Homo sapiens: one gene and its partners. The protein of the gene in region 6 interacts with the protein of the main gene of each other region in a pairwise test. Each region holds a gene or a part of one and is shown on either strand. Other genes may lie near its edges. The genes, in order: EGFL8, MAGEA2, FUT2, TNMD, KLRC1, NEK7 and MYNN.

Evidence for each region.
Region 1: the proteins of NEK7 (region 6) and EGFL8 interact in binary tests that used the Homo sapiens proteins (3 or more experiments, as listed by UniProt).
Region 2: the proteins of NEK7 (region 6) and MAGEA2 interact in binary tests that used the Homo sapiens proteins (3 or more experiments, as listed by UniProt).
Region 3: the proteins of NEK7 (region 6) and FUT2 interact in binary tests that used the Homo sapiens proteins (3 or more experiments, as listed by UniProt).
Region 4: the proteins of NEK7 (region 6) and TNMD interact in binary tests that used the Homo sapiens proteins (3 or more experiments, as listed by UniProt).
Region 5: the proteins of NEK7 (region 6) and KLRC1 interact in binary tests that used the Homo sapiens proteins (3 or more experiments, as listed by UniProt).
Region 7: the proteins of NEK7 (region 6) and MYNN interact in binary tests that used the Homo sapiens proteins (3 or more experiments, as listed by UniProt).

What each region holds. Positions count from the first base shown.
Region 1 is NC_000006.12:32,163,445-32,167,394, forward strand, and holds the start of EGFL8 (epidermal growth factor-like protein 8 precursor), read left to right. Parts: upstream 1-1,150; 5' UTR 1,151-1,213; exon of another isoform or gene 1,214-1,237; intron 1,238-2,693; 5' UTR 2,694-2,721; coding exon 2,722-2,822; exon of another isoform or gene 2,823-3,053; coding exon 3,054-3,176; intron 3,177-3,256; coding exon 3,257-3,366; intron 3,367-3,465; coding exon 3,466-3,561; intron 3,562-3,642; coding exon 3,643-3,813; intron 3,814-3,905; coding exon 3,906-3,950.
Region 2 is NC_000023.11:152,751,043-152,755,131, forward strand, and holds the start of MAGEA2 (melanoma-associated antigen 2), read right to left. Parts: upstream 2,801-4,089; 5' UTR 2,746-2,800; exon of another isoform or gene 2,500-2,745; intron 2,350-2,499; 5' UTR 2,271-2,349; intron 1,472-2,270; 5' UTR 1,352-1,471; intron 781-1,351; exon of another isoform or gene 683-780; intron 533-682; 5' UTR 467-532; intron 387-466; 5' UTR 322-386; coding exon 1-321. UniProt on the Homo sapiens protein: Reduces p53/TP53 transactivation function through recruitment of HDAC3 to p53/TP53 transcription sites. Also represses p73/TP73 activity. Proposed to enhance ubiquitin ligase activity of RING-type zinc finger-containing E3 ubiquitin-protein ligases.
Region 3 is NC_000019.10:48,694,690-48,698,770, reverse strand, and holds the start of FUT2 (galactoside alpha-(1,2)-fucosyltransferase 2), read right to left. Parts: upstream 2,801-4,081; 5' UTR 2,682-2,800; intron 1-2,681.
Region 4 is NC_000023.11:100,583,450-100,587,735, forward strand, and holds the start of TNMD (tenomodulin), read left to right. Parts: upstream 1-1,486; 5' UTR 1,487-1,569; coding exon 1,570-1,617; intron 1,618-1,781; coding exon 1,782-1,913; intron 1,914-4,286. UniProt on the Homo sapiens protein: May be an angiogenesis inhibitor.
Region 5 is NC_000012.12:10,447,953-10,450,377, forward strand, and holds part of KLRC1 (NKG2-A/NKG2-B type II integral membrane protein), read right to left. Parts: intron 2,016-2,425; coding exon 1,962-2,015; intron 1,437-1,961; coding exon 1,285-1,436; intron 1-1,284. UniProt on the Homo sapiens protein: Immune inhibitory receptor involved in self-nonself discrimination.
Region 6 is NC_000001.11:198,292,998-198,296,497, reverse strand, and holds part of NEK7 (serine/threonine-protein kinase Nek7), read right to left. Parts: coding exon 3,459-3,500; intron 1-3,458. UniProt on the Homo sapiens protein: Protein kinase which plays an important role in mitotic cell cycle progression. Required for microtubule nucleation activity of the centrosome, robust mitotic spindle formation and cytokinesis.
Region 7 is NC_000003.12:169,779,896-169,783,395, reverse strand, and holds part of MYNN (myoneurin), read right to left. Parts: intron 2,807-3,500; coding exon 2,647-2,806; intron 932-2,646; coding exon 753-931; intron 1-752.

The DNA of each region.
Region 1 (3,950 bases), on a different chromosome or scaffold from region 6:
GGGGTTCTGAGGCTCCCCTATGGGGACAGTTCCGTTCTTGAAGTGTCAGTGTTGGGGAATATCTGTGGCCTATGAGGCCCATCTCAGGTTTGGGGATCCCCCAGTCCCTATGATCAGTGTTGGAGTACCCCCCTGGGAGAGCCTAGTTTCTTTGAGGCCCCAGGCCCTCTTTTAACTACCTTTGAATAGGTGTTATCCCTGTATTTATGGAAATAAAGTTCCATTTCCTCAGTGTGACTTGGCTCATTTCCAGGTGGAGGGGACCTGGCTCCCCAAGGAGGGTGGGGGTGGAGCCTGAGGCCTGGGTGCCCAGATGCCTGGTCTAGGGTGGGGACCCCCTTGGTGTTTCCGCTCTCTCTCAATGCCCATTCTTTGTGGGTTCCTGGTTCTCTGCGGGTTCTTTCCTGCTGAAGACAATTCTCTTCCTCTCCCAGTCCCCAAGACTGGGGGGTTAAGCTCAGGGCTCCAGTGGTTTGGGCCTCAGCCTCATGGGTGGAATGCGCCTGCCACCCCCAGGCTAGACGAGGGGGCAGAGGGTCAGGGTGGGCATTCGTTGTGCCGCTTTTGAGCTTTGTGGGCCAGAGCTGGGTGTAGGGCTGGACAATGAGCCTCCTCTTCCTTGAAAGAAGGAATTTTGGCTGAGACAATAGGGCCCTGTCTGTTCTGGCATGGGGGGTGGTGGCTGACTCAATTCTGTTCCCCCTAAGCCCTAACAAATGTCATGAAGAGAGGGGGGCAGTTTTCCCCTTGGTGCCCTGGGCTGCCCCCCTGCCCCTTTGTGACGACTTGCCCTTCTAGCTTTCCTCAGCTGATCTTGCTTTTTCTCCCATAACCTGAACTGCTTTGTTCCCTGCAGCTGGTTCTCTCCCTGCCCCCTAACTCTCCCCTAGTCTGTTTTGGGTTCAAGGGGGTACTGGTGGTGTTACAGAGCTCATAGCTTCTGATCTGGGGAGTCCAGAAATAGGGGCCTCAGAGGGTTGGAAAGATACTTCTAGGGAGCCCTTTGCTGGGGTGGGGATGAGGGTAGTGGGACTTGACCCTACTGAGCTGACCCTGCTGGAGCTAAGGAGGAGGCTTGTGGGAGGGGGCAGGAATGGGAGGACTCTCTGGCCCAGCCCCTCCTCTCCTTCTTAGCCTGCCAGGCCCACCCACCAGTCTGAGCTGCTTCTGCTGAGGCTGGTCTGCTTGAAGCCTCCCAGGAGAAAGAAGCCAGGTGGGAATGGAGAGAGAGAGGAAGGCAAGTGGGGAGAGAATTTCAAATGGGGAAAGAGTGGGGTTTACTCAGAGCCTTAGGGTGGGCATGAGTTGCGGGGTGTTTTGTTGGAGCAAGGGATGTGCATTTAGGGCGTTATGTGACGGTGTGGGTATATGAGGGGAGTAGCAGTGTGTGAAAGGTGTGGAGTTTCCAGGTGCTTGGTTTGTGTGTACGGTGTGAAGGTATATAGCTAGGGGTTTTTTTTGTTTGTTTGTTTTGTTTGTTTTTTTGAGACGGAGTCTTGCTCTGTCGCCCAGGCTAGAGTGCAGTGGCATGATCTTGGTTCACTGCAACCTCTGCCTCCAGGGTTCAAGGGATTCTCCTGCCTCAGCTTCCCGAGTAGCTGGGATTACAGGCGTCCACCACTGCGCCTGGCTAATTTTTTGTATTTTTTAGTAGAGATGGGGTTTCACCATCTTGGCCAGGCTGGTCTCGAACTCCTGACCTCATGATCCACCCACCTCAGCCTCCCAAAGTGCTGGGATTACAGGTGTGAGCCACCGCGCCCAACCAGCTAGGGTTTTGAAGGTATGAAGTTATAAGAGGGCATGTTAAAGACAGGAGGGTTGGCCAGGCATGGTGGCTCACACCTGTAATCCCAGCACTTTGGGAGGCCAAGGCAGGCGGATCACCTGAAGTCGGGAGTTCGAGACCAGCCTGACCAACATGGAGAAACCCCGTCTCTACTAAAAATACAAAACAAAATTAGCCGGGCGTGGTGGCAGGCGCCTGTAGTCCCAGCTACTCGGGAGGCTGAGGCAGGAGAATGGCATGAACCCGGGAGGCGGAGCTTGCAGCAAGCCGAGATCGCACCACTGCACTCCAGCCAGGGTGACAGCGAGACTCCGTCTCAAAAAACAACAACAAAAAAAAAACCAAAAAAAAAAAACCCTAGCTATATACCCTCACACCCTACAAAACAAAACAAAACAAAATTAGCCAGGCGTGGTGGCGCATGCCTGTAATCCCAGCTATTTGGGAGGCTGAGGCAGGAGAATCACTTGAACCTGGGGGGCGGAGGTCGTGCGGTGAGGCAAGAACATGCCATTGCATTCCAGCCTGGGTAGTAAGAGCGAAACTCCTTCTCAAAAACAAAAACAAAAAAAAACCCAAAAAAAGACAGGAGGGTCATAAGGGGAGGGTTGACTGTGTGTCCCTCCAGGTTGTGCAGAGGGGATTAGAAGTAAGTAGGTTAGAGGGGAGGTGGAGGGAGTGTGCTGGGGTGTGAGCTTTTATGATGCTGAAAGGATCATGATATGCTAAGGACAGGATAGTGTTGGGTTGTACACACAGGTGTAGGCAATCCTGGTGGCTAGTATGTAAAAGTGAATGTCCTGACTCCCTTAGAGGGTACCTGCAGAGTGCCCTTGGAGGGACTAGTGCTGGAGAAATTAATAGGAGAGGGGACGGGCATCCATTAACCTTTTCTTGCCTGCAGCCTGTAGGGTCCAGCGTCAAAGCGAATCATGGGGTCCAGGGCTGAGCTGTGCACTCTCTTAGGCGGATTCTCCTTCCTCCTGCTACTGATACCAGGCGAGGGGGCCAAGGGTGGATCCCTCAGAGAGAGGTGACAACAGAGGGGGTAGGGCCCGGGGTGAGCTCTTCTCAGGAGCCTTCTGCTGGGGGTGGGGCTTCACAGGAGGCAAAACATAACTGTAAGTTTAGAATGGGGGTGAGAGGCTGTCATCTGGAGGGAGAGCGGGGGGCCTCAGTAGCCTCTTGAGGGAAGTGGGACTCCTGGCTCCCCAGGGCCTGGCCTACTCAATCTCTCCCACCTCATCCTCTGGCATGGACGCAGTCAGGGAGTCTGCTCCAAGCAGACACTGGTGGTCCCGCTCCACTACAACGAGTCCTACAGCCAACCAGTGTACAAGCCCTACCTGACCTTGTGCGCTGGGAGGCGCATCTGCAGCACTTACAGGTGAGGGATGGGGAGATGGGACCCCAAGAACCCCAACTAGGACCCGTACTCAGGGTCCTGAGCCGGGCGCTGTGTTCCAGGACCATGTACCGCGTTATGTGGCGGGAGGTGAGGCGGGAGGTTCAGCAGACCCATGCAGTGTGCTGCCAGGGCTGGAAGAAGCGGCACCCGGGGGCGCTCACCTGTGAAGGTGAGGCTGGGTCTTCCGGGCCTTGCGGGAGGCGCGCCCCACGGAGCTGGGGAGCTGGGTCGTCGGTTTGAGTCTGAACCCCACTTCCTCTGTCCTCAGCCATCTGCGCCAAGCCTTGCCTGAACGGAGGCGTCTGCGTTAGGCCTGACCAGTGCGAGTGCGCCCCCGGCTGGGGAGGGAAGCACTGTCATGTGGGTGAGTCAGCTTGTCCTCCCCACCTACCCAGGTGCTTGCCCCCGCCCCCTCTCTCAGCCCCTTCCTTTTTTCGGTAACTAGACGTGGATGAATGTAGGACCAGCATCACCCTCTGCTCGCACCATTGTTTTAATACGGCAGGCAGCTTCACCTGCGGCTGCCCCCATGACCTAGTGCTAGGCGTGGACGGGCGCACCTGCATGGAGGGGTCCCCAGAGCCCCCAACCAGTGCCAGCATACTCAGCGTGGCCGGTGAGTGGGCAGGAGTACGGGCCACCCGAGGGACTCGGGACGGGCGTCCGGGCTCGGGTAGTGGTCACACTCTTGGTCTCCTTTGTCCCTAGTTCGGGAGGCGGAAAAAGATGAGCGCGCTCTGAAGCAGGAGATTC
Region 2 (4,089 bases), on a different chromosome or scaffold from region 6:
TGCTTGGAACTCGGACTCCAGGTCGGGAAACATTCTTGGCCCCTCCTCTTCTTGGTTGCTGGAGCCCTCATCGGATTGTCTCCAAAGAGTGTAGTTGATGGTAGTCGAGAAGCTGGAGGCTCCCTGAGGACTGTGGGGAGGACTCGGTGAGTCGGCAGCAGGCACCTCCCCCAGGGTAACTTCCACTAGAGTAGAAGAGGAAGAAGCGGTCTGCTGCTCCTCAGTAGCAGGAGCCTGCGCACCCACCAGGCCCAGGGCCTCTCCTCGGGCCTCAAGGCCTTCTTCAGGCTTGCAGTGCTGACTCCTCTGCTCAAGAGGCATGATGACTCTGGTCAGGGCAGCAGGCAGGAGTGCGGGCAGGAGCTGGGCAATGAAGACCCACAGGCCTGGGGAGAGAAGGAGCGTGTGTGAGGCCTTAGGTGAGAACTGAACTGAACCTTGGAGGCTCTGACAAAGGCTTACTTACAGATCTTCTCCTTCAATGCTCCTCCAGTGCCTCGGGTCCTACTTGTCAGCCTGTCCCCCTCAGAACCTGAAGGAGGAAGTGGGAGGGCACCTCAGGGTACAGCCGGCCAGCACATGCTCAGGCTGCAGGACTGAGAATAGGGAGGGTGAGGCCAGGCCCTCTGGAGTCCCATTTGTTCTGGGCGGGTGGGGCCCTTGGTGTGCATTCCAGGCAAACCTTCAGTGTTGGCACTGTCTGCGTCCCCTCTGCTCTGTGACCTGAGGACACTGACTCAGACCAAGGCCTCACTGCCTGGTTCCTGGAGCTCCTGATTCCTGGGAGAGGAATGCACGGGCCTTCAGTGTGCAGACTGCAAGCACAGCCACGGATTCCCAGAAGTCTCAGCAGGGTTGGCCAGACTCCGTGAGGTCCCCACTCTACTTGGGTGGAGGGTCCCCTCTGTGCTCACTCAGGGCCCTCACCTTTCTCCTTGTAGGGCCTAATCCCACCCTTTTGCTGGCTTGAGAATCTCTCATGTCAAGAACTCACATCCCTGATATGGTACAGAAGGAGATGAGGGGACCCACATCTGGCCATACGTGACCAGGTCCTCCCGCGAAGGACAACGAGAGATGTCCAAATTCATTGGAGTCCAGGTGTCCTGGGTGACGAGTCCGCTTGGTCCTCACGTCCACTCCTGGCAGGGCCTGAGACCCTCCCTCTACTGACCTGACTCCAGCCCCTTCAGACCAAGGCCTCCCCTTCCCTGACATCAAAGATCCCAGGATAATGGAGGGACTTCAGCTGACAGCCCTGCCCAGGGTCTCTGAAGTAACCGCAGGGGCAGGGCAGATTTCTATGGGGCCCCCTGTCTGCATTCTGGCCCAGGAGTACCCTCAATCCTACCTCAGGCTCTCCACCTGGATGCTTGGCAGATCCTAGAACCACTGCATCTGTCGACCAGATGGGGGCCCCTGTGTTGACCTGAGTCACCTTCTGAAAACAAGGTCATCAACTCCCTGAGATCTGGAAACAGAAGTGAGGAGGGGCCACATCCTGTTACCCCCACGTGCGTTGTCCAGGGCTGACCCCTTTGGTTCTAGGGTGAACGTTATGATGGCCTCCTGTGGGTTACTCATCTTTACTCCTGCCAGGGACTGCCCTTTCTCAACCCCCAACCCCCTGAAATGAGCAGACAGCTCCTCTTTACACCAACACCTTATCTCCCTGAGGGTTCCCCAACCTCCTGCCTGTGGTACAAATGAGATTGTCACTTAGGGCCATCCCTGATCAGGTTCCCCCAGAGCTAAGAACAAGGGACGGCCAGACTCTGTGGCATCCCTTCTTTCTGGGCCGGGGGTATCCCCAGTCCTCATGAAGGGGGCACACCTTGGGTCCGGCAGATCCTGGGATTCCTCCCTCTGCTGACCTGAAGTCCCAGCCCTCAGACCACAGCCCTCAACTCTCTGTCACCCTGAAGGTGCAATGAGCACGGGGCACATTCGGCCACTGTGCCCAGGATCCCCCAGCCCAAGGTTGCCACTGATCTGGACTCCAAGGTCCCCTCAGTCCTCCCTCTTCTTCCTCCCCTTGACTCCTCGCAGGGCTGGGCCCCAACCCCCTGCTGAAGTGGGTCTGCATCCCTAGGATTCCCGCGGCTGAATGAAAAGGTGGCTCAGTTTGAGACAGGGGTACAGTGGGCCCCCTGTCCTGGCATGCTGGGTCCCCTAAGGACTCCACTGTCTTCCAGGAGGGCCTGGGCCCTTCCTCTGCATCCCAAAGGCCATACTCACGAGACCCAACCCCTTCCCTCCCTTAGCCGTACATGTGAACGTCAGGATCCGCGTGCTTGGCCGCCATTCCCGGAGCTTCCGTGGGTTGATTGCAGGGGCAAAGCCCGGATTCTGCCAGGATGGTGGTGGGGGAGGAGATGGGAATGGGGTTTGGGGGTGGGGTTGGTGTTTGAGGGATGGGGGTGGGGTTGGTGTTGGGGGATGGGATTGGTAGTGAGGGTAGGGGGTGGGTTGCCCTCAGTCCCCTCTTGGGGTCCTGACCTTGATTCCTGGCTGAGTCTGGGCCCTGAGCACTTCTAACCAGCCCTGCCCTGGTCACACAAAGCTCTTACGCCAGAGTTCCCTGCGGTTAAAGCGGCGGGGGGTGGCGGGGTGAGGTGGTGGCGACTCAGCCTGAGAAGTCTTCCCCTGCAGGGTGGTCCAGGCCCGGCAGCAGAGGCAGCGCTGGATTATTGGGGGCCCTCTGTCTGGGGTGAGGCCCGCCTCAGTCCTCCCTCGGCGTCTTACCTTGCCTCCTCACGGAGCCTGCGCCTGCTTCCCTCCGCCGACGTCAGGCCGTTGCTCAGGGCGAGAATCTCGCTGTCCTCTGACCTCCAATGCGCAAGTCAGTGGCGTCACATCCGGGCCCGTGACTTCCCTGGGTTCACGGCAAGGGTGGAACCGGATTCTGCCCGGATGGGGATCTGGATGGGGGGGTGGGGGTAAGCATGAAGATGGTGTTGGTGTAGGGGTAGGGATTGGGACGGGGATCCTGAGGCTGTAGATCCTGGTGGGGTCGGGGGAGTTGGGGGTGGGAGGGGCCTTTGGTCATCCCTCAAGGTCCTGACTTGGATGCCAGACTGAGCCTGGACCGCCATCCTCTGCCGATTGTGTTTGCTCCCCTCAGACCAAGTCTCTGACTCTGAGTCGGCCCGAAGTGGCATTGGGGGGAGGGGTGTGCTCGGGGTGAGATCATTGCCAGTGTGTACCAGGGCTGACAAGAGGGGCTGAGCTGGATTCTGTGGTCCCACTATGTGGGTGAGGGTGGATCCTCAGTCCTCACTCAGGAGGGTCCTCTTCCTCACTCCTGGCTGTTTGATGAAGGAATGGGTGGGAGATGCTCTGTTTCTGTCACCTCTGAGCATCTGCGCATCTGCGCATCTGCACCCCTTGTAGAGAATGGCTGCGGGTGCCAGGCCAGGTGCTCCCTGCAGGGCAGGAGCTCCCGCGATGATAGTGACCTCTGGGAGAAGACGCACACCTTCCCACGGGGGCTCCTCCCCAGCCAGAGCTACACTTGGCAAACCTTTGGTCCTAAATGATTTATTCTCTGAATTGAAGAAATACGGTTTACATATCTTCTAAGTATATATGTAGGTAGCAATATATATATTTATTTCTATGAACTAACACCTACCCTTAGTATGCATGATTCACTCTGATATCCTAGTCTACTTCCATTCCAGTCTTTGTGTTCTGTTGAAAGAATTTTTTTAAAAAACATAATTCCTCTCCCACTCTGTTGGTTTCAGGTTGTTATTAGCAGAACTCTGGAGCCATGCTGCCTTAACAAACCCAATTTTCCTGGTGGACACTGCTATTACCTAGGGCTCTTGGCATCGTGTTTTCAGGGGCTGCCTCAGATTGTGCAATGAAGTGAAGTGGAAAATTCAAAACTTTTATTCTACCCATTCTTTCATCTGCCGTCTAGGCAGGCTACAAACCTCCCCAACATCTCTGCCGCTAACCCCCTCCAACAGACACTGCAAGTGTCACACACAAGTACCAGCTCAACACAGTCTCCAGTCTCACTCTGGGCTTTCCCTGTTTTGTTGTGTAGATTTTCTTGCTGATACTGGTGTTTTACTTTCT
Region 3 (4,081 bases), on a different chromosome or scaffold from region 6:
GAACTTGTCTCTATTTTAGAGAAAATTAGGCCAGGCGCAGTGGCTCACGCCTGTAATTCCAGCACTTTGGGAGGCCAAGCGGGGGCGGATCACCTGAGGTCAGGAGTTTGAAAGCAGCCTGACCAACATGGAGAAACCCCGTCGCTACTAAAAATACAAAAATTAGCCAGGCGTGGTGGCACATGCCTGTAATCACAGCTACTCAGGAGGCTGAGGCAGGAGAACCACTTGAACCTGGGAGATGGAGGTTGTGGTGAGCTGCGATTGTGCCATTACACTACAGCTGCACTCCAGCCTGGGCGACAGAGTCAGGCTCTATCTTAAAAAAAAAGAAAAAAGAAAAGCAGAATGTTCTACACGGATGTCCCTGCCTCCTTGGTAGCTCCCTACCTCCTTACCCAGGAAGGAGGAAGGTGGCTGCTGAGTGGCCCAGAGCAGGAAGCTGGGCACTGACCTTGACTGGAGCCTGGAAGGAGAGAAGGAAGAGGTGGGGAGGCCTCACAGAGCAAGCTGCGCTATGAGATTGTGAATTTTTGAGGTTTGGCGAGATGCCCTGCACGGCATGATCAGGAACCTTTTATGTGCTGTGTGACTTTAACCCAGGGCTTTTACCTCTCTGTGTTTCATTGTCCTTGTCTGTCCATCAACAGGGGGTTGTGGGGAGGGATAAAAACAACACCTCCCCAGAGGTTTCAGTGAGCTGAGATCACACCATTGCACTCCAGCCTGCACAACACAGTGAGACTCCGTCTCAAAAAAAAAAAAAAAAAAAAAAAAGAGCCAGTGCAGTGGCTCATGCCTGTAATCCCAGCACTTTGGTAGGCTGAGGCGGGTGGATCACCTGAGGTCAGGAGTTCGAGACCAGCCTGACTAATATGGTGAAACCCCATTTCTACTAAATACAAAAAATTAGCCAGGCATGGTGGCTCATGACTGTAATCTCAGCTACTTGGGAGGCTGAGGAAGGAGAATCGCTTGAACCTGGGAGGCGGAGGTTGCAGTGAGCCGAGATTGTACCATTGCATGCCAGCCTGGGCAACAAGAGCAAAAATCCATCTCAAAAAGATACAACAACAACAACAAACCACACCTCCCTTAGGGCTGCGTGGGCACAAAGGGAAATGCTGTATTACATGGGCTGTCCCTGGTATTCAGAGCAGAATTTGTGCCCCAAACTCACACTTATGTCAGGCTTGAACCAAGCACCACTCCCATTCTGCCTGAAGGCATTATTTTTTTTGAATTGCTTTTTTTGTAGGGATGGTGGGGAGGGGGTCTTGCTATGTGGCCCACACTGATCTCAAACTCCTGGCCTCAGGAGGTCCTCTGTTCTCCTTCCTCAGCCTCCCAAAGTGCTGGGATTACAGGCATGAGACACCACACCTGGTCTATCTTACTGAGATTTTTTTTTTTTTTTTTTTTTTTGAGACGGAGTTTTGCTCTTGTTCCCCAGGCTGGAGTGCAATGGCACAATCTCGGCTCACCACAACCTCCGCCTCCCGGGTTCAAACGATTCTCCTGCCTCAGCCTCCCGAGTAGCTGGGATTACAGGCATGCACCACCACGCCTGGCTAATTTTGTATTTTTAGTAGAGACGGGGTTTCTCCATGTTGGCCAGACTGGTCTCGAACTCCTGACCTCAAGTGATCCGCCTGTCTCGGCCTCCCAAAGTGCTGGGATTACAGGCGTCAGCCACCACGTCCAGCCCCGTCCACGTCTTTCTATTGCGGCCCGGCTTCCTCCTCTCCCCTCTGTCCCCTACACCCAGCGCCGGCCCTGCCCCTTCCCAGCTCGCAGCCCCTTCAGGGCTCCCTATGCCTCTTAAGACACAATCCCAGTCTCTCGCCGGCCCCGCACACCCCTCCGGCTTTGTCACCAGCTGTTCCCGTGAAATAACCCAGCTCTCCGCTCACCCGGGGCCCCGTCCTGTCCCCCAGCTCTGAAAGCCTTTCTCTACCCCAACCGCCCCGTGCCCCGGGCAGCTCAGCACATCCGGCTCAGTCGCACCCCACTGCCTCGAGCTCGCTGTCTTCCTGCACCTCCCCGGGATTCCCGGATTCCCGGCATTATCACTTCCACCCTGGGGAGGAGAAGGGAGCTTCAGACAATAACGTAGGGCCATCACTTGGAAACCCCACCTTTATTCTCCGACCCAGAACAGAAGCGGTGATTCAGAGCGGGATTAGGGAGTGCAGGAGGGACGGAGCCGCCCTCCCTGGGCGACGGCAGGGCTCGGAGGTGAGACCAGCAGTTTGGGTTCCATGAAGCCTCTGAGGAGCCCCAGGGTGGAGGCAGGAAAGTCGGGTCACCACCAGCTGTGCGCGAGCCATCTGCACCATTACTGCCAGGGTGGTTCATAGAAACTGCTGAGGGGAAGGAGACAAGGAAGGACCTGGTGGCCCGGGGTGGAGAAGGGGAGGGAGCTGGTGGTTGGAGCTCTAGAAACAGATCCACCTGGAAGGAAGTGGGGAGGGAGCTAAGGAGGGCGGCTGGCTGGGGAGGGGGGTCCTGGCTGCCGAGGGAGGGACCCTCCTCTCCTGGAGGTCCTGAGTTGGGGGTGCCTCCCAGAGGGCACCAGGGACCCACGAGGGCACACAGGTCCACGTCCCAAATCCCTGCTCTCCGCCTGGGCGTGTGTGCAGAGGTGTGCGTGTTGTAGGGTGGGAGAGGAGCCCCCTCACCTTCTCTCACCTGGTCCTGCTGAAGGAAACCGGGACAGAGTGGTTGGGCAGGCACCTCAGTGTTCCCTCTGGGTCTCTCTTCACTCAGGGCCAAAGAAACCCTTCCAGCATCGGTGACTGGCAAACCCCGCCCAGGAGCTACAGGGCTTTCCAGAGCAGGTGTGGCTGGGCTGCGGGAGGGAGGTGAGCCCGTAGCCCCTCCTCCCTCCCCATTGCCGGCCACAAAGTCCATCTTGTTATCTACCCTTAGCTCCTCCACCTGCACCAGGCACCCCAAGCCTGGCCATAAGGGTGGGGGAGAGAGGCAGGACAAGGTCGCATCCCCCATCCGGGTCCCCGAGGGTCTTCCTTGGGGAACTGTTGTGATGCCCCAACAGAAAGGGGCCCCCACTCTGCTCCGCTCCTCCAGGCAGCCAGGAAGGCCTCCAGGAAGGCAGCATGGAGGCGGGGGACAGAGTCCTGCTAGGCCAGGCTCTCGCTGACTCTGAGTCCCCTCAGAGTCTTATATTTATTTATTAATTAATTATTAGTAGTATTACTTTTTGAGAGAGTTTTGCTCTTGTTGCCCAGGCTGGAGTGCAATGGCGTGATCTCAGCTCACTGCAACCGCCGCCTCACAAGTTCAAGGGATTCTCCTGCCTCAGCTTCCCAAAGTGCTGGGATTACAGACGTGAGCCACCTCGCCCTGCCTATTTCAAAAAAATTTTTAAATACAAATGGGCCCGGTGTGGTGACTCACACCTGTAATTCTAGCACTTTGGGAGGCCGAGGCAGGCGGATCAACTGAGGTCAGGAGTCAGAGACCAGCCTGGCCAACAAGGTGAAACCCCGTCCTTATAAGAATACAGAAATTAGCCATGGCCCAGCACAGTGGCTCATGCCTGTAATCCCAGCACTTTGGGAGGCCGAGGCAGGTGGATCACCTGAGGTCAGGAGTTTGAGACCAGTCTGGCCAACATGGTGAAACCCTGTCTCTACTAAAAATGCAAAAATCAGTGGGGCGTGGTGGCATGCACCTGTAATCCCAGCTACTTGGGAGGCTGAGGCAGGAGAATCGCTTGAACTTGGGAGGCGGAGGTTGCAGTAAACTGAGATTACACCATTGCACTCCAGCCTGGGAAACAAGAGCAAAACTCTGTCTCAAAAAAAAAAAAGATGGATGAGGAATTTTACTGAGAGAAGAGGCAGGCACCACCAGAGCTCCCAGCAGTCCTAACAGGAGGAAAGAGAAACCAGCAGCCACTCCCCAGCTTCAGCTAAGCAGCAGGAGGCTACCTACCAGCTACGGAGCTCCCTTCAAACAAACAAACAAAAAAATCAGATCAAGCTTCCCACTCTAACCACCAGTTTGCAGAAAACAGGAGGACAAAGTTCCCAGTGAAACGACACCATGAGGCAGC
Region 4 (4,286 bases), on a different chromosome or scaffold from region 6:
AGCAGTGAGCACAATAGGAAAGAACAGCTTTCAAAGATATAAAAATTTAGAATAGATAGGATCTAGTGATTGATTGGAATAGATAGGATCTAGTGATTGATTGGATAAAGGGAATGTGAAAAAGAGACAAAACCTCAGATTTTTGGTTTGAAAGACAAACCTCACATTTTTGGTTTGAAAGACAAACCTCAGATTTTGGTTTGAAAGACTGGGTGCGTGACAATTCCACTATTATAAGCTAAGTTATGTTCCCTCAAAATTCATATGTTGATGCCCTAGCCCCCAGTATTTCTATATTTGACTGTATTTGGTGATAGGGTTTTTAAAGAGGTAATTAAGGTTAAGTGAAGTCATATGAATGGGACCTTATCCAATATAACTGATGTTCTTATAATGAAAGGAGATTAGGATACAGGCATACATAGAGGGAGAATGTCATGTGAATATGGAGATGGTCATCTACAAGCCAAGGAGAGAGGACTCAGAAGAAGCCAACCCTGATAACACCTTGATCTTGGACTTCTAGCCTCCAGAGCAGTAAGAATATAAATTTCTGCCATTTAAGCTACTCAGTCTGTGGTATTTTGTTATGGCAGCCCTAGCAAACTAATATAGCCACCAACTAAGGTTGGGAATATGAGGGGAAAAAGTAGGTTAGGAGAAGGTGTTGAAAGAAGACTTTGATATAGAACATGTTGAGTTTGAGATTCCTGAGGTATATCCAGGTGGAGATGTTCAAATGGCCTTGAAATTAAAAGATATAACTGGGTTACAGGTACAGATGTGGAAATCACTGATATGTAGGTGATATTTTCAACTGTAGGAATGAATGATATCATCTACGAAGTCTGTGTAAAGTGAGAATGATCATCAAGAAGAGAACCATAAGGCATGTGAACATTAAAAAGCAGACTGAGGAAGAGGACCCAAGAAAGGAGAAAAATCAGAGACAGAAGATGAAGAGAGAGAGCTTAGAATTAGTCTTTATTTTATCCTGTTTTCATTATAATTAGTTAAGTACATATTGATAGCACCATTTAAAGAGCTTTAACTTAGTGAAGGAGGCAATATCTTATTCATTTCTGAATCTCAAACACCAAGCACAGTGCCTGACATTTAATATCCCTGCAATAAATATTTGTTGAACCAAATGGAATCGAAATTAGGACTTCATTCCCTTCTTTGTTTTGTTTGCTTATTTCTGGAGTGTGCAGCATGTATTGCCACTGATATTTTAAGTTCATAGTGAAAAATCATTTCAATGTGTTCTAGGCTTGGTCCCCTTCCAACCCAACCCCCAGGACAATAGTTTTCATTATAACCTTCTGTCTTTGCCATTCTGGATGGAATTCTGTGCACAGAAGTTATATACATATATGGGTATATCTATGTAACAAATCGCAGCACAGGAGTCCCCTGGGCTCCCTCAGGCTCTGGTATGACATATTTGAGCCATATAAATTCAGCTTCTCCTCTGGCATCTGTTAGCCGACTCACTTGCAACTCCACCTCAGCAGTGGTCTCTCAGTCCTCTCAAAGCAAGGAAAGAGTACTGTGTGCTGAGAGACCATGGCAAAGAATCCTCCAGAGAATTGTGAAGACTGTCACATTCTAAATGTAAGTTGATTCATATTTTTTCCCTTTTGAGCAGAAGCATGGTTTCACAGATTTATCATATTGCAAAGTGAACATTAGAAAGTGGAATCAAAGGTGACTTTGAATTATGGCTTGCTTATTGAGATTTATTGTGTATTGTTTTATTCTCTCTGTTCTTTGGTTAGGCAGAAGCTTTTAAATCCAAGAAAATATGTAAATCACTTAAGATTTGTGGACTGGTGTTTGGTATCCTGGCCCTAACTCTAATTGTCCTGTTTTGGGGGAGCAAGCACTTCTGGCCGGAGGTACCCAAAAAAGTAAGTAAATACACATCATAATCTGATGCTTCTGTTCTGAGTTTGATTGAATTTAATTAGTAGGCATATAAATTATTCTGAAAATGAAAATCATTAAGTCTCTTTTGTGTTTATTTTCTGGTGGTATGAAAAACTGAATCAAGATTTTTCTCTCCTTCATTTGCCTAATTATTTTGGTAAGGGAAAAAAATTTATCTTCTATATTTTGGTTAGTAATGATAGGGTGTAGAATTACCCATTCTTCTATAATGCTTATATTTAAGGAGTTAAGACTCCTCCTAGGAGCAAAGTTTTTACCTTAAGAAAAAATACTTTTAATCTTTCTTTCAATTATCTGGGCAGAAACTGATGGAAAAGTAATTAGACCACCACATAAGGAGAAACCACCCAAAGTGGCAGCAAAGGATTTTCAGGGATTATGTTTCTGACTTAATGCATCTGCAGTGAGAACAGGCAGCAAGCTGCTTTTCAGGAGGAGCAATTCTCATACCTGACTTCACATTTATTTATGACTTTAAAAAGAAACTAGAGCTTTTCAGCTCCTTGCCAGCTGCAATCATCACTGTCCCACTGAGATAGCAATGCCACAAGGTAGAAGCATGCGACACCAAGTCATTAATCACAGATAACTCAGAAAGCTTCTGATACTGGGGTCATTTGGTGAAGCTTGGCTAGCCACTGTAGTTTATATTTCTGTACCTTAGTGTTATTGTTATTCCTGGGCTCATAGGCAATGGGCAAGTTTAGATATAAAATAAATAAATAAAACCATAGTCCCAAATAAAACCATAGTCCCTTCATGCTCACAATTTCCATTTGAAAGATAATCAACAAATATACAAACTACAAGTTGTGAAGATAGTTTTCTGGCTTTGCCATGTTTTTCTGTTGGTGTGTGGATTGCTGCTGAAGTTATTGTTATTACTGTTGTTAATTGGTTGTCATAAGATGCTCATTTCTATTTGGTAACAGATGTAGGGAGAAAAAAGCACAAATCCAGGAAGGAGGATGATACAAGAAAATGGGTTGGCATGGACCGTTAGGAGCCAAAGGAGCAATAGGAGCAGAGAGAAAAAAATATGGGTCAGTGGGGAGAGAGAGGCAGAGCAGGAAAAGCAGAAAATAAGCTGGCTAAGTGTCTGAAAGATAACAGAGGTATAAAGCATAACCACCCTTGGGTTCTCCACCTCTGCTGTCATACCCACTTTCATTTAGTCCCAAAGGATATCTTATCAGGTTTAAGTAGGAGGGAGAGCAAGCCAGCCTACTTTGTTTGCCTTTTTATTTATACTTTGTTCCAGAAAAGATTTCAGGCATCACCCAATGCCTATAGTTAGCCCTATCCCCTACTCCTCCTCCCCTTACTGCTCCTTGCTTCTGAACTACTTACCGTTCAAATGTCCTTCTAGAGAAGCCACCTGTGTTCAGGCTGGCAGGGTGGGTAAAGCAATCGAGATCAGGAAGGAAACAGCAAATTAATAAGAGAGCCAAAATGCATTCCAATACAATTCTGGTACCACTTAGCTAATTCCCAAGGTGATATGTCACCCCACAAGTTGAACCTTGGATCCTCTTGAAAATTATCCATGAGTTAAAGGGCCATAAATCCTTTGTTCTCCACAGCCATAATGTACTTAACTGGGCATGGTGGATAGCTAGTCCTTTTGACCACCCTTAGATGCTTGCCTAAATAAGGGGCCAAATGGCCTTTCTTGTTTTATTGTTGTCATTGGTACTGCAAATGCTATTCCAAAAGAGTATATGTGTTTTTATAAATTTACAGTGCTATTTGCCTCAACGCAGCTATAAACGACTAGGTGGAGACCTTGCCTTTTTATTGCAAAGTGTCAAACTCACTTGCAGCTTCATGGTCTCCTCTCTTTCCCTATTATATCATCTTTACATCTCATTCTAGTTCTGTTTTTAATGATTATAAGGAGCAATCCTATGATACCTCAAACCAAAATAAAACTTGGTCAGTGCATGCACAGAAGAGGTGGGATATGCTGCTGAATAAAGTTTATCAAAAATCAAACCTCTTGTGAAGTAATCCATTTTGGGATGTCATTTTCAGCAAAGGGACTCTCAGAAATGAACAAAGCTATTATGAAGTAATCCAGATAAAGACAACAGGTGTCCCCTAGGGCAAGTTTCTCTACCATGAACAAATATTGTTGGTTTTCCATTCCAGTGGGGAGTTATGATTCATTGTCTTTGATATTTAAGTCATGGCCTTCATAAGACCAGGTTTGGTTCATTGAAAACTAAGAAATCAGCTGGAAATGAGGATGCTTTACTTAGTCCACTACTACCTTCAGGTCCCAGACAAAGATCTCAAGAGACCATCTATGTTTCCAATGGGTACGCCTATCA
Region 5 (2,425 bases), on a different chromosome or scaffold from region 6:
TCAGAGTTGGAGATTTAGAAGAGAAATTAGAGGTTGTGATTCAGAAATAAATGACATGGAAGCTACATATTGGGTTTTCTGGGTACCACACCATTCTTTAACTAGATAAGCCCTCACTTTTTTATCTGATTTGGTTTTGGTGGAATAACAGTGATCCTGACCAGGTGGTGTAGACTCGTCTCTCTCTGCTACTCCCTACTAAAAACAACTATAAACTCTGGGATTAATGAAAGACAAAAGCAATGGAGAACTCTGAAAGGTGGAAAGAGAAAGATGAAATTGTCTGGGACCCTAGCATCAGGGATCAACCAAGTGTCCGAGCGAGCATGTTAAGTCCTCCACACGACAGAAGAAGGTGACCTAGGCCTGCTGTTTCCCTACACCCAACCTGGCAATAGGAGGAGGCCCAGCAAAGCTCACTCCTGTTCTGTATTGAAGGGGAGTCCCCTCCGCAACAACAGGCAAGGCTGGTACCACTGGCAAGGATGATCTACCAGGAGACTTGCTACCAATACAGCCAGAGGAAGTACTTCCTTCTCATACCAAGAGACACCAGAGTGGATGTGGGTGAGGAGGATCAGCAAAGGAACCCAATGACTACCAGTGCACCACCCAGGGTCCTCTTTGTCCCTGAGGGCATGAGACTCACTTCCCCATCCAGAGACACAGGATTGAATGGATTCTTAGTGTTCTTTGTACATACTACAGCAGTGAACAGTAATAAACGACAGATAACCGCAATAATATGGAGGAATTGCATAAATATCAGATAGGAGTGAAAAACACAGACATGAAATTCACAGTGTATGATTCCCTTTATATAAATTCAAAAGCAGGTAAACGTTATTTATAACATTAAAAGTCAAGACAGTGTTTTGGAGAGGAGTCAGGATAAGTGATGAGGGCATACACAGGGGTGGAACTACTAGAGCTGGAAACTTTTATTTCATGATCTGACTTGTATCACAGGAGTTCATTCACTTTGTGATCAATCTGCATGACCAGATCACATCATGCCCGATAAAATTAGATAGCAAAATGTATTGTGGATTGAAAGCATTTCTAGAAGCATGGTTTTCCATGAAAAGCAAAAACTGAAAATAATCAAAAGTACATTAGCAGTATATGAATTTTAAAACATTATTAAGTCAATCAATTAAATACTACATAAACTTGAAAACATATAAGCTAAATGTATATACCCACACATATGGATGATTTCTACAAATATATTATCGACCGAAAGAAGCTTTTCATAAAGTGTTTAAAACATTTACATCTTACCATTTCTTCTTCATTATCTATAGAAAGCAGACTGGAGTTCTTCGAAGTACAGGCCAGCAAACTCTCTTCCCAAGTTCTTCTTTCCTTACCAATGTAGTAACAACTGTTGGAATATGTAATCCACTCCTCAGGACAATGGCCACAATGACGTGCTAAATAAAGATATGAATTACTATCTAGACCAATATGAATTTTTAAAAATGAAAATTAGTTCACATATTTGCAAACATATAAACCTATACGTATGCAACATATCTATACATCTTCATGGGCTGGTAAATATATAGTGTCAAAATACCCAGTCACTTATACACACATGCGCAATAAAGGGTCAGCCTTTCATCTCCTAATTGTGTTCCCATATAAAGCAAACCAGCAAACAAAAATCCACTCTATACATGTCTTGAAAAATCAATGAACTAATCTGATTTTTAAGGAACAATAAATAACTTGTATCTTATCATATTATAGCAGTAAGAATTTGAACACAACAGATAAAAAGAAAGCATAGTGATTTTACTTATAGTTGATGACAAGTGAATGCCTTACTCTAATTTTATTTATGAACACTTATTGCCAAATTTTATAATTTTTCACCCAAAATTTTATTTTTGTACAGCCTAAGATCAAGAAAAAATAAACTGTACAATATTAAAACTTTAAAAATTATTATATACCTTTCTGAGTTCTTGTATTCAGGGAAGAATTGTTGTGCCTCTGTATTAATGTAGCTAGAAAAATTAAAGTAATCTTTGTAAAAAAATTAGCATCTAAATCAATCATAATAATTTTAAGTTTTTGTTTGAATTTTTTTGTATTATTTAGAGTTAGAATAATATGGAATAAAATTGATTTTAAGAAAAATTTGATAAAGTAATGGTGGTTTTTTGGAAAAGTATTTCATAGATCTAAAGAACCAAATTTCACCATCTCATATAGTTCTTATAATTCTTGATTTAACTACTTTCAAAAATTAATTTCTATTTCTCAGTAAGGTTTTTCAGACTCCTAGAACATATTTTTGAGTTATGAAATCCAAATATATACATACGATTGCATCAGAAGCGAATACTTTCAACAATTATTCTTTCATTTATTCTTTGACAAATTCAGAATAATCATTCCACATTTAGTCCAAATA
Region 6 (3,500 bases):
CTTCCAAATGAGATTTTTATGCAGAAAAACACGACCCAAAGGATGAACAACTTTAAAAAAGACATTATCGAATTTAAATTTATTTTAAGACAAGGTTCTAACTTGACATTTAAAGTGCAAGCAAGTACTGTGGTAAGCAGTGTTACAAACTAAAAATTCAATTTAAAATGTTCGCATCCTGTTCAAAACCTTCTAAATCTTTGAACCACAGCAGCAAGAATACAACACGGAGTGCCAGGCTGCCCCAAAGTCAGTCACCCTTTTCTACATGTGCTAATAAGTTTGATTTTGGAAGGACAATGTGTACATTCCCCAGACAGGCAGAGTGTGTGTGAAACACGCTAGTCCATGCTGTGCTACTCAGTGAGCGTCAGTGGGGACAGGACAAGCTGAAAATGGCTCTCATCTGTCTTCTGTGCTCCAGACAGAGCTTTAACTCCTTCAGAGCCTTGATGAGAAGGGGATGGGATTGGAAATCAAAACTGGAAAGTAGCTCAACACATTTTTATCTTGCCTATGTTTTACATAAAACGTGCACACAACTATATAGAAGTACCTTAGGAAGAGTTGTTTCACATGACGAGAAAAAAGTTAAAAACAATCTGAATGCCCCTAATCATATAAAACACTCTGAGAGGAAATTTCTAAAAGAACCACAATAATAATAATAATAATAATAATAATAATAATAGTGGTTTTTGTTTTAAATGCAAGGACACTTTAAGATCTTACCTTAAAAATACACTGTATATATAAACTATAGTCTCTCCGTGTTTGCAAAACCTTAAGTAAATGTACATATATTCATTATCATATTCTAGGCGTTCATTATAGTCCTTTTTCTCAGTACTGCAGAGTGTTAAAAAAAAAAAAAATCTGAATGTCCCCTAAGGAGTTAAACAGGAATAGTATATTTTCATGCATCTCCTGCTTTGACAGATGAAAAATGTCAACTGTCCTGTTTTTATTTTCAAGCTTTTGCACTATTCATCTGGTTCATTAGTGCATCTCGATGCTGCCCCTGACAGCTGCTCGCCCTCTCCTCCCAGCAGCTGAATTTTTCAGGCTAATTTGATCCTCCACACTGAGACGATCGCTAGAATGATTGACTTACTCCCTGACCTCCAGGGTCTGACTTTCCTGATTAGTATTCTGGGGGTGTCGGAGGGACGAAAGCCCACTGTCTGTCTTCGGGGCTGGTGGCAGCTCTCTTTTTTTTTGAACTGTAAGCCACCAACCTACAACCCTGTAAGGATGCAATTGCTGCGCTGAACAATAAAGGAAATGTGTAAAACCTACTTTTCCATGTAAAGGTCCGTGTAGCAAAAGCACAGCATCTTGATTTTAATTAGTAAAGTCTACTTTGTTGCATATCAATTAAAACTGTACTGCTAGTTTTTTTTTTTTTTTGAGGTTTCAGGAATATTTGAAAGTCTAATTTTCTGAGTTTAAAATACATTTTCAAAAAAGGCTTCCTACGTCTTCATTGTTAATAGTAATTTTTTAGTGGGTACAATACAAAATACGTGATGTTATGACCAATTTTTAAAAGCCAAACTGTTAGCTATTTCTATTAACAGTACATTGAAACACAACTGAAAGGAAATAGAACATAAATTTAAATTAAAGCTTTAGAAAAATTCTAGTTCTTCTAAAAGATTTGCATGGAGAAATCAAGAAAATGCGTTGAGATGAAAACTAACATTAGCATGATAATACTTTAACTCAAAATCATCCACAATACATATAACTCATGGATGTAGAAATGTCCAAAGATGTTATTTTTATTTTTGTGGCATTTTAAGTCCATACAAAAATGGGACACCGTCTCTCAAAGGCAAATTCAAAATGTGATAAATTATTTCAGTTTTGACATGAGTATGCTAAATCTAAAAGAATTATGCAAACTTCCTCTCAAAAACCACTTACTACCTCAACAGAACTTTTTCTTTTTTATTGCTAAATTTAATCTAGTTATTGGAAACCAATTTGCTGTTTACTTTTAGGGATTTGAAGAGAATATGTTGCTTTGATAATATTAGACTATGGCCTAAAGGAATCTAAGGTTAACTAAACAAATATAAAATATTTTAAATGTACAGAGTGACTAACTTTTAAACATTATAGTAACAATATAAACAATCCAGTTCTTTTTAGGATTGTACCAAATTATTAACAAAATATAACACAGTGAGCGTAATTTCTTGTAATCTCGTGCACATATAAAAACATGTTTTGTTACATTACTGACTCATAATTTTTCATAACAAAAATTATCCAAAGTATGAGTTTATTTAAGAATATTTAAAAATCCTTTCATTTTAAGTAGTTGTTAGTCACTTTAGTAGGAAGGACAAAACAAATAATTTCAGGTTCCTTAAATTAAGGAAATTTGAATCTGCAATGAATAAAATAATAAAAGATCATGACATACATTTTTAAAGAGTCAAAAAACACCTCCTAATGCTCTACTTCCAAGTAATGGTGGTACAATTAAAATAGATGATTTCATCATATATTTCATTTAATTCTGGAGGACAAGAGACAGGAAATATATATAGTAGGAAATGCATTGGTTTCTATTTATCCTCTTTAGACTTCTCTCATATACACAGAGATATGAAAATGATTCCTACACAGGGATATGAAAATGCTTCCATGTATTACATTTCCTCACTTTATTAAAACCTACTTAGATATAGACTAATTTTTAATTAACAGCTTTGACTCGAAGCCTATATTCCTAGGAAAATTATCATTCAATTAAAAAAACAAAATTACAGAAGTCACTAGCTTGAGATACTTTTATACCAACACAGATGTAAAATGTGTTACTAACATGCTTTCTTTTATCCACCCAAATTATTACAGTGCAACATTTCTAGAGGACCTACCTACATGATTCCATCTTCCTTTGATAAATGATCACCAGTAGAACAAAAGAGAGAGTATTTCACTGAGCTTTACCAATACAAATTGTTACTCATGGAAACTAAATTGATAACCTAGAAGAACTATCTGTTTGCATACTATCCTTAATGCTAAATTACACCTGTGTAAAAGTGAAATAAAATATTGATAAAAATATTTACTATACTTTCATATATTAAATCCAATCCATTATGCCACTCCTGTAATGCATGGATCAAGATTTACAGATGTTCAAACGTATATTTTTACAAATGCAAGATATAGAGAAAGGCGTTATATTAACATAAAAGTTAATGCTTTAAAAATAAACTTCTCATCAAAAGAACACAATTTAAAAATATATTAGATGTGTAGGAATGTATAGTTATTAAATTCCATTATACAAAGTTATTAACCCAACGAAAATTCTTCACAATTAAAAAGGTGATTCTTAAACATCCAGAAAAAAGTAAGTATATACTATAAGGATAGAGGAAATATACTAAGTAAAACTGCATCAATATTTGGAATTTATCAACATTACCTACCTCATATAGTAGACAGCCAAGAGACCAGATGTCAGATTTGAA
Region 7 (3,500 bases), on a different chromosome or scaffold from region 6:
TTTCTGGAATATTATTTAAATTAAAATCTCTCTATATTGTACTTTAGAGGTATTTTCAGTGATCCAAGTAAATGAATATTAGTAATTATTGTATACTGTTCATAAGTTTTCATATATTAAAACTTTATTCCTCAAAATGTCCCTTCTAATAGAGATGATTTGGGCAAGGAATTTGATTTTTATATGATTAAGAACATGTCAATTCATAAACCCACATTTCTATTCTTGCTATCTACTATATTAATAAAGGAGAATAAAAGTATGTAGGGAAGTCTTTTAAAAAATGTACCCTAAAAAAGCAATTTGTTTCCAAACTGCTATTTTGCATCTGAATTACCTTATTTGAAAATCCCAGAATATCTGTGTAGGAAAGGTCCTAAGAAGTTTAAAAATCCATGTTCAACCCAAACCCACTCCCCAACCCTAACTATAGGAGATGACCCTTTAGGAAGCTGAAAAGGTTTTTATAAAGTCACAAAATGCATCTCAATGCAAGTTTATATAATATCAAAATTATCTCACTGATTTTAATGTGTAAGTTATATAATTTATTTCACCCACCTTGTATTATTCTAGAAAATAAGTCAGCTTTTATATTTAACAAATATGTGCAAAAATCATAAACATAGCTTATAGAAATATAAACAGATATCTAACTACAAAGTTTCCGATCTACTTCGCTAAAAGGCCCAAGTCCCCTTTTTCTTTTATTTATAACTTTATTTTAAGCAGTCTCTCCCTGTCAAACTTACCTGTATGTTTTCGAGAATGAGTGATAAGAGAACTAGAGACAGCAAATGCCTTCCCACAGGTATCACATACATAAGGCTTTTCTCCAGTATGCCTACGGACATGATAGGTCAGTGTGCTGGCTTGAGCAAATCTCTGTCCACACCTATCACAGACATATGGCTTCTCTCCACTATGCTTCCTGTTAGTAAATAAAGTTAAATAAGTAAAACAATTTGGAGGTCAGTCTATATAGCAAGAATTCATAAAGTTTTTTATAGATTTTATTTCATGTCATCTTAACAGGCCAAGACTATGTATTTAAAATCAGTAGTTGTTTCAGTGTAAACACTGCCAAAAACAAATATTTCTTATTATCAAAACATTAGTTCTGAGATCAGTTCAAAAAGTTTTTCCATGATCTTTATATGGTTGTCAGTGGGCCCCTAATACTGCAGGCAATTATTTTCATGAGTCTAGTCACTCTTTGACTTGTGAACTCTCTCCTCAAACCATCAGCATCTCCTTGCCCATTGTAACTCTCAGGTGACATCCCTGCTTCCTATTTCACTGAGAAAAATTCATATGACATGAGGGTGACAGTTCATCTGAATCCATCAATTCCAATTTGTATACTTGAGATCCTACTTAATGATATCACTTCTGCAGTTTCCCCAGTCCTACATCATCCATGTTTCTCACTCCATTGGATTATGGTATACAAATATACTGATGTCTCCCATATTAAAAAAAAACCAAAAACAAAACAAAGACCCTTGACCTTACTTGCTCCTCCATTCTCTGCTCCCCTTTACCAAAACCTTGAGACTCCAAGTGTTCTATCTACTTCCATTTCTTCTCTACTGGCCTCTACTAATGATACTTTTGTCAAGAGCACTGCTGACTTCCCACTTTACTAAATCCACGTCAGTTCTCAGTCTTCATCTCCCTATCACAGAATTTTACAATTGACCACTCCCATCTGGAATAACTTCCTTCACTTGGGATTCCAGGGCAGCCCTCTTTCCTGGTTTTCCTCCTCTACTGGCTGCTCCTTCCTAGTTACCTCTGCTGGTTCTCACCCATCTCTCAGAACTCATAAAGTTAGAGTGCCTCAGGGCCGTCTTTTGATTTCTTCTGTCCACATTCACTCTCTTGGTGACCTTAGCCAGGGTTACAGCTTTAAATACTGTCATATGCTGATGACTGCCAAACGCTAATGATTGCCAAACTGTTATCTTCAGCTCAAACCAGTCCCCTGAACTGCAGACTTAGATAACCAATTATCTATTGCACACCTCTATTCAGAAGTGTTAAGTCATCTCAAATTTAACACACACAGAACTGTACTCGTAAATTCCTGCACTTCCACTTAAACTGTTCTACCCACAAACCTTCTCTATCTCAGTTAATGGCAGCTCCATCTTTATAGGGGTTCAGGCCCAAAACCTCAGAATCATCTTTGACTCTCTTCCAGACTTCACATACAATCTGTTTGCAAATTCTATTATTTCTAACTTTAAAATATATCCAGAATCTACTACTACTTATTTCTTTCACTGCTGCCACCCTGGCCTGAACCACCATCACCCTTGCTTGGGTTTTATCTATAGATTCCTGTTTACCCTGATTCCACTCTTATAATCCTATACCAGTCAGAATGATCCTCTTAAGCTGCATTCTGGACCATTCTGATCTTACTTCTGGACGAGTCTGACCTTATTTCCTAGTAGTCCCCACCCCCTGCTTATTTCCTATCAACCACTGTGGCTTCCTTGTGGTTCCTTGAACGTGTTAACATTGTTTGGTGGAACCACAATTACAATTCTACTGTCCTGAATTCTAATATAATAGTCTATTCATAAGACTATGGTGATTAAAAGACTAAAAGATCAAACAACTCATTTGGTTTTTTACCTTGCATGAATCTTGAGATTGCTAGAAGTTGCAAACTGTAAGTTGCATACATCACATTTATAGGGTTTTTCTTCACCATGATGCATGCGACTATGGAAGACTAGCTGACATTTCTGAGCAAATCCTTTATCACACAATTCACATTTGTATGGCTTCTCACCTAAAGGAACAATAAAATTTATATTTAGAAGAAAATAGTGTTTTGGTTGCATAAGTCATATAAGATTTCATCAACAGTACTAGCTTTGTTATTAAGAAAATGTTAACTGTTGGAACTGAAAACAAATATAATCTTTTCCAGACCACTGAAAACACCAGTAGAATCAAAAGAAATTAGTGTTTCTGAATTCACGAGATAAATACATACAGCATTTTAAAAAGTACGAATCTAGGGCTGGGCTCGGTGGCTCACGCCTATAATCCCAGCACTTTGGAAGGCGGAGGCGGGCGGATCACGAGTTCAGGAGATCGAGACCATCCTGGCTAACATGGTGAAACCCAGTCTCTACTAAAAATACAAAAAAATTAGCCGGACTTGGTGGCAGGCACCTGTAATCCCAGCTACTCGGGAGGCTGAGGCAGCAGAATGGCTTGAACCCGGGAGGCGGAGCTTGCAGTGAGCCGAGATCGCACCACTGTACTCCAGCCTGGGCGACACAGTGAGACTCTGTCTCAGAAAAAAAAAAGAAAAAAGTACGAATGTAAACGTACCAATAGGTGCTCATACTTTACAACCAGGCAGAGGACATGCAAAATAAAGGTAACTGTAGAAGCTTAGGGAACACTGTATGTGTAATTCCAATGAACATGTTCAGAAGTCAACAGAGTCTAGAAGTATGTAATGAGAAGTGTTG